2 linked regions of the Homo sapiens genome follow. The protein of the gene in region 1 interacts with the protein of each later gene in a biochemical or structural test. Each region holds a gene or a part of one and is shown on either strand. Other genes may lie near its edges.

Region 1 (5,007 bases):
TAGGAAGCACTCCTGTCTTTGGGTGAATGCACATTTGCTAAAATGGCGTTTTTTGCATTGTGTTGATTATGAAGTAAAGCCACAGTGAAAATACTATGCTTTTTAAGTGCAAGCCGAACTAGAAGGTGATGATTAACTGGGGTCTTATCTACACTGTAGTACTTAACACTAACATTCAAAGCATGCCCTGTCCTGCTTTGAAATGCCAGTAAAAGAGGACAAAACAGGTAGGACATTCTTGGTTCAGAGTGCCCTGAGAGAAAAGATTGAGTTCCTGTCTGCTGTGGTGTCTGCGCATGCCCACTGCAGTGCCAGGACAGAATCAAGCAAGTCTCTTTATCTCACTTCTAGTCCCCTTTCTTGAGAGCTGTACCCAGAGAGCTGAGGCTTGCCTGGACCTCCCAGCAGCCTCCCAGGAAAGGTCTCTTGCCAATAACAGAGGGGCTTTAGAGAAGAGGAGAGGAGGGGAGGGGCCCTAAGCCAGTACTGGGTACTACGGCTCCTAGGTCCTTGAAGGTACCGCATCTTTTATTTTCTCTGGAGATCTGTCTCTGTCACCCAGGGCCCCAATTTCCTGGAAGAATTGCTCAGTCTCTTGATTTTAGATTTAATACTTGTAAAACCCTATAATGACTGGCACTAGTCAGACAAGTGCTTGTTCTTTTGACAGCATTTATTAAGCACTTACTATGTGTAAGGCACTATGCCTAATGCTGGGGCACAGCAATTACAGGGCACACAAGACAAGTTTATGCCCTAGCTGGAGACATAGCCACTAATCAAATAAAGAGGTATTTCGTTATCTCTATGTATATTTAAGACTCAGCCCAAGAGCTCACCCACCTAGTGTTTGGCAGGTAGGGGGTGGTTAATTTGACTCACAAAGTTCCCTAGTGTCAAGGTTGAACTTGCCCTTTGGGAGTTCAGCATGACAAATATGACTTGCGAAGATATAGAGGCAGACTTCTTTCTGGTGGCTCTTAAGAGACCCCTGTCTTGAAAGAACTGCCACTCTGTAGCAGAAGCTATACTTGCATGACAAAGCTGGGACCCTAAACTCCCTCCTCCTGTTGGATCCCTCTTACAAGAGTTCTTAAAATCTGTGGCAAGCTGCAGCTTAGGGAACATCCTTTGTTGCAGCAAACCTCCCTAGAGTTCAGTACTCCCTAGAGTTCTCTTCCTTCTGTTTTTTTCATAAGAGATATGAGGACCTACGAACAGTGACATTTGTCTAGCCACTTCTAATGCAGACCAATTTGGGGGGATTCATCAGATGCCAGGTGCTGTTTATTGGGGAAACAGCCTTATTCCAGCCATTATTTGTAACACTCAAAGATCTTTTGCCTCTGGCATCAGCTGCTATTGAGTGAGGGCCATTATATGTAATTGAATTCCTAGAACGTGTGGCACCTTTAAGTAGAAGAGGAAAAAATACAACTTAATTTGTCATCCAAGGGCAGGGACTTGTTGGTGCAAACACAGCTGGGCCCTGAGGCCTGGCTCCAGTGAGTGTGGAGGACCAAGGGGACGGGGGCAAAGAGCTCCAGCCTTGCCACCGTAGCCCTCTCGCCAATTGGGAGAGTGGCTTGAGGCTAGGGCGGGGGGCTTCCTGCTGGCCTGTTTGGGCCACCATAGCCACTGTAACCCACACCTGGCATGGCCCTACCAAGCCTGACTCTGGGGACAGGCACAGCTAGGCCTGAGTGGGGGTGGCATGTTTCCTGAAGAGTATCTGTTTTCTCTGGTTCGTCTGCTTTGTCATGGACCCTCTGTTGCATGTTGAGCAATCACTGTCTCCTCTGTCATGGAGCGGACTTGGCCTCATGCTGGCATATGGCATATCAGGGTCTGGCCTTGACTGTTTCTGACACTGGGATGAACAAAAATGTGAAAAGAGAACGAATCCAACTGATTTCTCTCTTCTGTTTGCTTTTCCCTCCTCTCATGCCCACCCCTACCTCCATCTCATCACCATTTAGGATGAATCTCTTCAGCGTCTGCAGAAGGAGTCTGACATCTTACAGAGAACATATGCACACTACTTCGATCTCACAATTATCAACAATGAAATTGATGAGACAATCAGACATCTGGAGGAAGCTGTTGAGCTCGTGTGCACAGCCCCACAGTGGGTCCCTGTCTCCTGGGTCTATTAGGCCTCTCCCCAGATATCTGAGCATAACTGGGAGCACCTCATTTGTGGAAAAGCCTCTTTGTTATCGGCCTTGTGTCAGCAGGTCATGGTCCCTAGAGACTACCTAGTTGTAGTGTGACCTACATTTATAATTATTGTCATGTCCGAATAGATAGGAGGAGAAAAACAATTACACACTAATTTAAAGAGACAGTATCTTTTTTAATCAGTTCTCCTAAACTTTAATAAAATGTATCTTTAAATGTATGTATTATTCAATCCTTTGGAATGTTATATTTTTGGAAATCATAGCTTTTTATTTCCAAGGCCCCTAAAAACTGCACAAAATAGATGCTGCTTTCTATAATCTATTTTAATAATAATAAACAATGATTCTGTTACCTTGACTGGGGGTGGAACACTACATTCTTTTTAGAGTCTGATTTTATGGATTGGAATATTGGGATATCTTTCTTTCCTTTATTTATTTGAAATAATTAGTGTAGTGATTACAAAACAGTCATAAATTTTTAAAGGCCTTTTTTCTCTCTTTTTTTTTTTTTAGAATAGTATTTTTTTTTAAGTCCTTTATGTAACATCCAGATAATGTGATACTGTCTCTTTGAAGCACCCTGTAAACCTTTTAGAGATTTGAAGTTGGGTCTTGACTCTTAATGCATGTGGACAGTCGCGAGCGTTTATGCTGTCGGTGTGTCTGTGTTGGACAAAACAATCTGTAATCTACAGCAAAGTACATTCTACATTCCGTTCATGGGGCACACCCAGGGGAATAAGAATAAAATGCTATTATGACTAAGTTGTAAACCTATGCACATCCCTTGCATTTTGGGCAACTTTATAAAAAAAAAGAAACTGATTTTTATTAATAATAATCATGTAGTGAAATGTGTTTGTAATTTTGTCTCAATTTAATTTGTTGTAAGGTGGGGTGGGGGGAATTGCTGGTTTCACCATTTCAGATCTGTGTTGTCTAAGAGTATTAACGTTTTAATTAAGCAAAGAAATGATTTTTAATCTGTATGTAATTGTTTTAAAGCACCCATTTTAAGAGAAAATACTGTGCAATGAAGAAACCAGTTTAGGCATTTGCTATAAACTGAAATATTCCAAAAGAATCATCTATAACAGCCCTGTAAATTCCTTTAAAATGATAACTAACAGGACAGTTTGACCAATTTTTTTTAAATATACTTCCTTTTATGTGTTCAATAATTAAATGCCTTTGGGTCCTTCATTTCATTATAGATTTGTTCAGGCTTCCAAGCTGATAATCTTTACAATTGTATAATTTGTTAGATGCTCATTGAACCTTTGAAGGCCCAGGAGTGAGTATCAGTTGGCAGGGTGACAAAGTAGCCTGCCAGAGCACAGCTGGACCACGTCTGACTCGCACAGAGCCATGCGCCCAAGGGCCACGGGTGTACTGGAGGCCACCTGTGGTCTCTCCTTCCTCTTGCTGTATCCCTTGGCACAGGGGAATCATCTGTCCTTGTTGCTTTAGAGACATTAACCATCTCATAACTCTTCCATGAAGTCACATTCTTCCAATACAGGAGATTCGGGCTGGGGTTCTCAGACTCTTTGCCAGAGGTCAGTAGAATGTTTTTCATTAGCATGTGAGGGTGTGAAGTGCTTATATTAACCTGTGATCCTTGAAAACATACCATCATTTTTTGCTTCTTGTAGGTTAGATGGCCTTGTCACTTTGTGCCTTGGCAGGATGTGCAGGGTGTGTTCTGAGCTGAACAGCTCCTCTTAAAGGACCAAACAGAGAAGGCATTAGTATACTTCTTTTACATTGTCAACACCATACCCGCCTCCGCCCCCCACCGCCTATTATTAAATGGTGGCGATTTTTTTTTTTCTGATGTTGTTCTTTGCCAGTGACCAGATGAGTCTGCAACTTACTAACAAGGTATTGAGTGAACTACTTCTGTATGGGCCCCACAGTGGGGTGACCAAGCCACCAAACCAGAGATAAGCTCAACAGTGGTCTCACACTAGATAGAGAGAGAAACCTTCAAAGAGTTGGGTAGGGCTGTGTTAGAACTGATTCGAATCTGATAGATGCCAAGGCCAGACAGTCGTTCCTGGTATGGTACTGACCACAATTTCGGGCTCTTAGTGTGAAGGTGCGCACTCTACCTCTTTTCTGGTGAAGCACAAAGACAACTACAACTAACACATGGGAAACAGAAACTTCCCTCCCTCTAGTGGAAACCCCCACGCCCCCACTTGCCCTTTGAGCCCACATCTCCAGAGATGCTGATGATGCCTGTCTTAAGCCATCTGCCATATTTATAAAGGTGGATTAAGCAGAGGAGGAGAAAAGCAATGCCAACTTAAATGTCTGTGGCCCCACAATTCACAAGCACTGTAGCACTCATCCTCAGTGGCTTTATACGTCCTCTGAGAAGCACACAGGCAGGCATCATTCTTGCCATCATTCCGATGGTGAAATCCCTGCATGCAGAACTCATTGACTTCTCAAAGATGTTACCTGTTCCATTCCACTAATACATGTCTTCTCTAAAGCAGTGTCTTTATGACCTAGCTGCATATACTTACATTTCTGAATTCAGAGTAATTTCAGTACATTGCTGCTGCTGCTGCTGCTGCTGCTGCTGCTGCTGCTGCTGCTGCTGCTGCTACTGCTACATTACAATTGTCCACTAAGCAATCAGAGAAAATTGCTAAAAGCTTCTTTACTGCTTCCATTCCATCAGCAGAACCTTTTTTTTTCTTTCTTTCTTTTAAAGACCAGAATGAATGTTTAGAGTACTAAATCTTATTAGTGGTCAATTGAAGTATTGGAGAGCCACATTTTGAAGGTTCTCTCCCCCACCCAACTC
Region 2 (4,824 bases), on another chromosome or scaffold:
GCACAAATATGTCATGGACTTCCAAGCACTGCATCCAGGGCCTTGGTCAGTTACGCTTCCTGTAGCTGGAGGTCTGCCAGGTGCAATCTCATAGCCACCGCTGTGTCAGACATCAGGCCCTATTCTCATCTCTGCCAGCTGCTGGCTGTGGACTCTAAGCAAGTTATTTAGCTTCTCATTCAGTTTCTTCATTGGTAAAATGGAGACAAGAGTTCCACTTATCTCCAAGGTGGGCTTAAGGCTCAAATGAGATAGCACAAAGAAAGCAAACAGAATCGAGCCTGGTACAGAAATGTTTAGCACCTCAGTAGAATTCTGCTGGCCTTGGGGCAGCAACATGTATGTTTCTGTGGATGTGGATCTCCATGGAGCATGGAGTCTCCAGTATGCTCTAGCTATGTGACCTGGGGCTCATAGCTTAACATCTCTAGGCCTCAGTGTGCTCATCTGCAAAATGGACAGAGTAATACTGTAATACTGTATATTAGTTCAGGTCCTCCAAGAAGGAAACACCAAGAGAAGATACAGGTGTGCCTGTAGAGGAGATAAGGAGGAATCCAGAGGGGACCCATAGAGACCACAGACCTTGCTACAGGTATGACCCCTGTGGAGCAGAGAAGGAAGGAAGTTTGGGTAGAAACAATCTTAGGCTACAGTGCAGCTCCAAGGAAGCTGCACTATTTCATCCAAGGTGATGGAGAATCCTTGAGCACAGTCACCCATCAGAGGAGTCCTGCATTTCCCAGAAATGGGGCTGCCTAGTGTCCCTGCTAGCGTCAGTTATTGGCTAAGAACACTTGTGGGAAGCGTGGCTTCAGCAAGAACATCATGAATACAGAGCCCAGTAGCTTGTTCATCAGTTTTACCCCCTGCAACTGGAGAATGCAGGCTGAGAGGTACATTTTCAAGGGGTCTGGTACACAGTAAATGCTAATAAATACCTGCCATTATGGTTATAAATAACCACCATCACTGTCCTTACTCATGGCAGAGAGTATTTACTAATATCCCCTCCAGTTGGGAGACACTCCCCCCACCTCCACTGCCTCTGATAACAGAAAGCAATACTTCCCTTTAGTCCATGGCCAAAGAACAGATCCATGTGGGCTGTCTTTCACATTTCCTTTGAATGAAGATTTAGTTAACAAAGAACACACAGGTCAGGGACAAGTTTGGTTTCTAAGAGTAATTTGATTTTATTTCCTCGTATGACCCAAGAGAGGAAATGAGCTCAAGGGGTGCTGTCCAGCACTCCATTAGAGGTCAGCCATGTGCAGATTGGTTTTCTTAAATAATTCTCTCTACCACCCCCTCCCCCACCTACCCAATCCTTCCAGAAGAAGTAGAATTGCCGTGGTCACTACTGAAGCAGCTGACCTGCTGGGTGCAGTTATGGGAGAAAAAATGGGAGACCACTAAGCAGTTTCTGATCAAATAAAGATTTTTTAAAAGCCAGAACTTCCCATTATTTTTGCTTAGCTCTTTGGTAACTTCTAATTCCTCATTTTTGTCTCTTCTTAAAAATTATCCTCAAAACCACTTCTGTAGATGAGAATGAAATGTTCGCCCTCTTTACAGGTCAAGAAACAGAGGCACGGTAAAGTTACGCTCATGTTTAAAGTTGCTCCGCTGGTGACAACCTGAATCAGAATCCAAATGTCCCAGCCCTTAGGAGTGTTTAGCCCATTGTGTTTACTCACCCAGGAAATATTTTGTTTTGTTTGGTTTGTGTTTTGTTCTCTCTCTCTTTTTTAAGAGACAGGGTCTCGCTCTATTGCCCAGGCTGTAGTGCAGTGGTGTGATCATAGCTCACTGCAGCCTCGAACTCTGGGGCTCAAGAGATCCTTCCACCTCAGCTTCCTGAGTACCTGGGACTGAAGGCATACATCACTGTGCCCAGATAATTTTTGTTATTTTTTATAGAGACAGGCTCTCGCTATGTTGCCCAGGCCGGTCTGGAACTCCTGGGCTCAAGTGATCCTCCCGCTTTGGCCTCCTAAAGTGCAGAGATTACAGGCACGAGCCACCATACGCAGCCTCACCCAGAAAATATTGATTGAGTACCTACTATGTGCCAGACACTGGGCCTCACTGGAAAAGAGCCCTGTAGGCAGAAGAAACAGTTTGCTCAAAGGCCCTTGGGTGGAAAGGAGAAGTAAGGAGTGGGGTGAGGAGGATGGCATAAGGTTAGGTTGGGATGGAGCAGAAACCCAACACACACGGTCTTAAGGCCACATGAAGGATTTTGAACTCTCCCCTGAGTTTAAAAGGAACCCAGTACACAGTTTTGAGAAGTGGAGTGACAATAATCAGATTTGCATCTTCCCCTTTCTGTGCATACACCCAGCCTCTCTCTAGGGATTGGGGGCAGCCTAAGGTGGGATAGATGGTAAAATGCCAGGCACCACCAGCCATGGCCATCAATTTGACTTATGGGGAGAAAGTGAGCATGCTAAGAACACAGACTCTAGATGCAACATCTGGATTCAATCCCAGCTGTGTGAGCTAGGGCACACTTCTGCCTCTCTGGATCTCAGTTTCTGTTTCTGTAAACTGAGTGGTTGTGGTTCTACTGCCTAGGGTCATGTGGGGATTAAATATGCCTAAGTTGCTCAGTCAAGTGCCTGGTACCAAGCAGATGCTCTAATGCATATTGGTCATTATCAATGTTGATCCCTTTCTGATTTATTCATCAATTCACCCTGATAAAGAAGGGGCCTTTGGGGTCAAGAGGCTGTTCTTATTCATTAAACGTCATCCATAATAGCATGTTGTGTCGCCTCCCAGCTGGCTGAAACCGGACATGGGAAAGAAGGCCAAACACAAGACTCAAATTAAAAAGAAAACCTTGAATCCCGAATTCAATGAGGTAAGGCTGCCCTATTCTTTTTCATGCTCTGGGATATTTGCTGTGTGTTAGAGAGGCACAAATAGCCACATAGCCATTAAATATGTGGCCACATAGCCATTAAATGCAGCCATTTGAAATGATGATGTAGAAAAATATTTGAAAAATATTTGAGAACATGCTAAGTTGGTTTTTGCCCAAAGTTGTAAATGAAAAAGGAAGTGACAATACTGTATGTTCAGCATTACTTAGTTAACAAAAAATTTATACATCACTGTGAACACATGTGGGGGAATGTTGACATGGTTATTCTTGGGTAGTTGGATTACCGGGAATTGGGGGTGGGGGTTCTTCTTTGTTTTAGCAATGAACATAAAATGAATTTTGTAATTAGGCAGAGAAGCTATTTTTTAAAAATCAGATTGTCTGGGAACATATGTACTCAGTCCACTTCAACTGTATTTATTTATTTATTTATTTTTGAGACAGAGTCTCACTCTGTGGCCTAGGCTGGAGTGCAGTGGCGTGATCTTGGCTCACTGCAACCTCCACCTCCCTGGTTCAAGCAATTCTCCTGCCTCAGCTTCCCGAATAGCTGCAATTACAGGTGCCCACCACCATGCCTGGCTAATTTTTGTATTTTTAGTAGAGATGGGGTTTCACCATGTTGGTCAGGCTGGTCTCGAACTCCTGAGCTCAAATGAGCCACCATCTCAGCCTCCCAAAGTGCTGGAATTACAGGTGTGAGCCACCGGGCCCGGCCACTTCAACTACTTTTATTCCTAAGCAATAAAAAAGGGGATGCCCCTTCATAAACTACCAGAGGGGAAGGACTATGTTCATGGCCATTTACCTACAAGGAAACTTGAGCTCTATTAGAAAAACCTCACCAGCCTTCCCAATTTCAAGCAGAGAATTCACTGAAAAGAGGATGACAGTGCTTTGTTACACAGAGTGTTTGTTGGAAGGGGATCACGGGACCTGGGGCAGAGGATCGGCACGGGAAGACCTCCTTGCTCCCAGAATGCCAGCTCAAGGACCTCTCCTTGGCCCATAACCCCTAGGACTCGGCCTCTTACCTCCCAATGCTGTGGGTTCAGAGGGCTCTTACCCACATGTCTTCCTCTGTTGTATTCAGGAGTTTTTCTATGACATCAAACACAGTGACCTGGCAAAGAAGTCACTGGACATTTCAGTCTGGGACTATGACATCGGCAAGTCCAATGATTACATCGGTGAGTGTTCCTAACTCCAGAGAAAACGCCCTCTTCTGTCCTCCCCAGAACAGGAGAGCCTTATCCAGGGCTACAGAGAGTTGAGGTCATTGCTATTCTTTTGGCAACCTCATTGTTCAAATGCTAAATTGAGACCCATGATCTTGACCTTGGTCCAATTTGGGGATGTCTTTACATGAAAAGCCTTACAAAACTTGATTATTTGTTGAACAAATCACCTCCAGTGGGGTAATTAAATCACAGGAGAGATTTGCGTTCTCTGCAGAAAGCAGGGTGCAAAAGAATTCTTAATTTATTTGCATGTCCAGGATAAAATTTTTAATTTTTTAGTTCCTGTTTGAATCATGAGGAAGAAAATCAATTAAAGATGAAGCAGGGGGGTGGGGACTCCAGGCAAGGGACAGAGCCTGAGCTAAGGGGTAAAGACAGGATTGAGCAGGATGATGAACCTTTTTGGAAATAGACAATGAGTTCCCAGAAGTAGTGGGAGATAAGTTTCAGTGAGTAGAATGGTGATTTGTAGAAAGCCTTTAAAAATAGACAGTGAAATTATGACTCAGTGGAACAGTAGGGAGCCATTGCAGGTTCTTGAGGCAGAGAAGGACCGTAATAATAATAACAACAACAGCAGCAACGTTATAACAACTCTCTATAGAGTATGGATCCCAGGTTGCTGGGGGTCACTGCTTGGTGCAGTTTTTTCCCCAACTACACATTTGGGTCTAGAACGACCTCTATTCT

The links. The genes of interacting proteins can lie anywhere in the genome.
Region 2: the proteins of CASK (region 1) and RPH3A form a complex in vitro, tested with the Homo sapiens proteins (one study listed by BioGRID).

The regions. Positions count from the first base shown.
Region 1 is NC_000023.11:41,517,569-41,522,575, reverse strand, and holds part of CASK (peripheral plasma membrane protein CASK), read left to right. Parts: intron 1-239; exon of another isoform or gene 240-423; intron 424-1,979; coding exon 1,980-2,156; 3' UTR 2,157-5,007. UniProt on the Homo sapiens protein: Multidomain scaffolding Mg(2+)-independent protein kinase that catalyzes the phosphotransfer from ATP to proteins such as NRXN1, and plays a role in synaptic transmembrane protein anchoring and ion channel trafficking.
Region 2 is NC_000012.12:112,891,791-112,896,614, forward strand, and holds part of RPH3A (rabphilin-3A), read left to right. Parts: intron 1-488; exon of another isoform or gene 489-595; intron 596-2,787; coding exon 2,788-2,869; intron 2,870-3,986; coding exon 3,987-4,083; intron 4,084-4,824. UniProt on the Homo sapiens protein: Plays an essential role in docking and fusion steps of regulated exocytosis.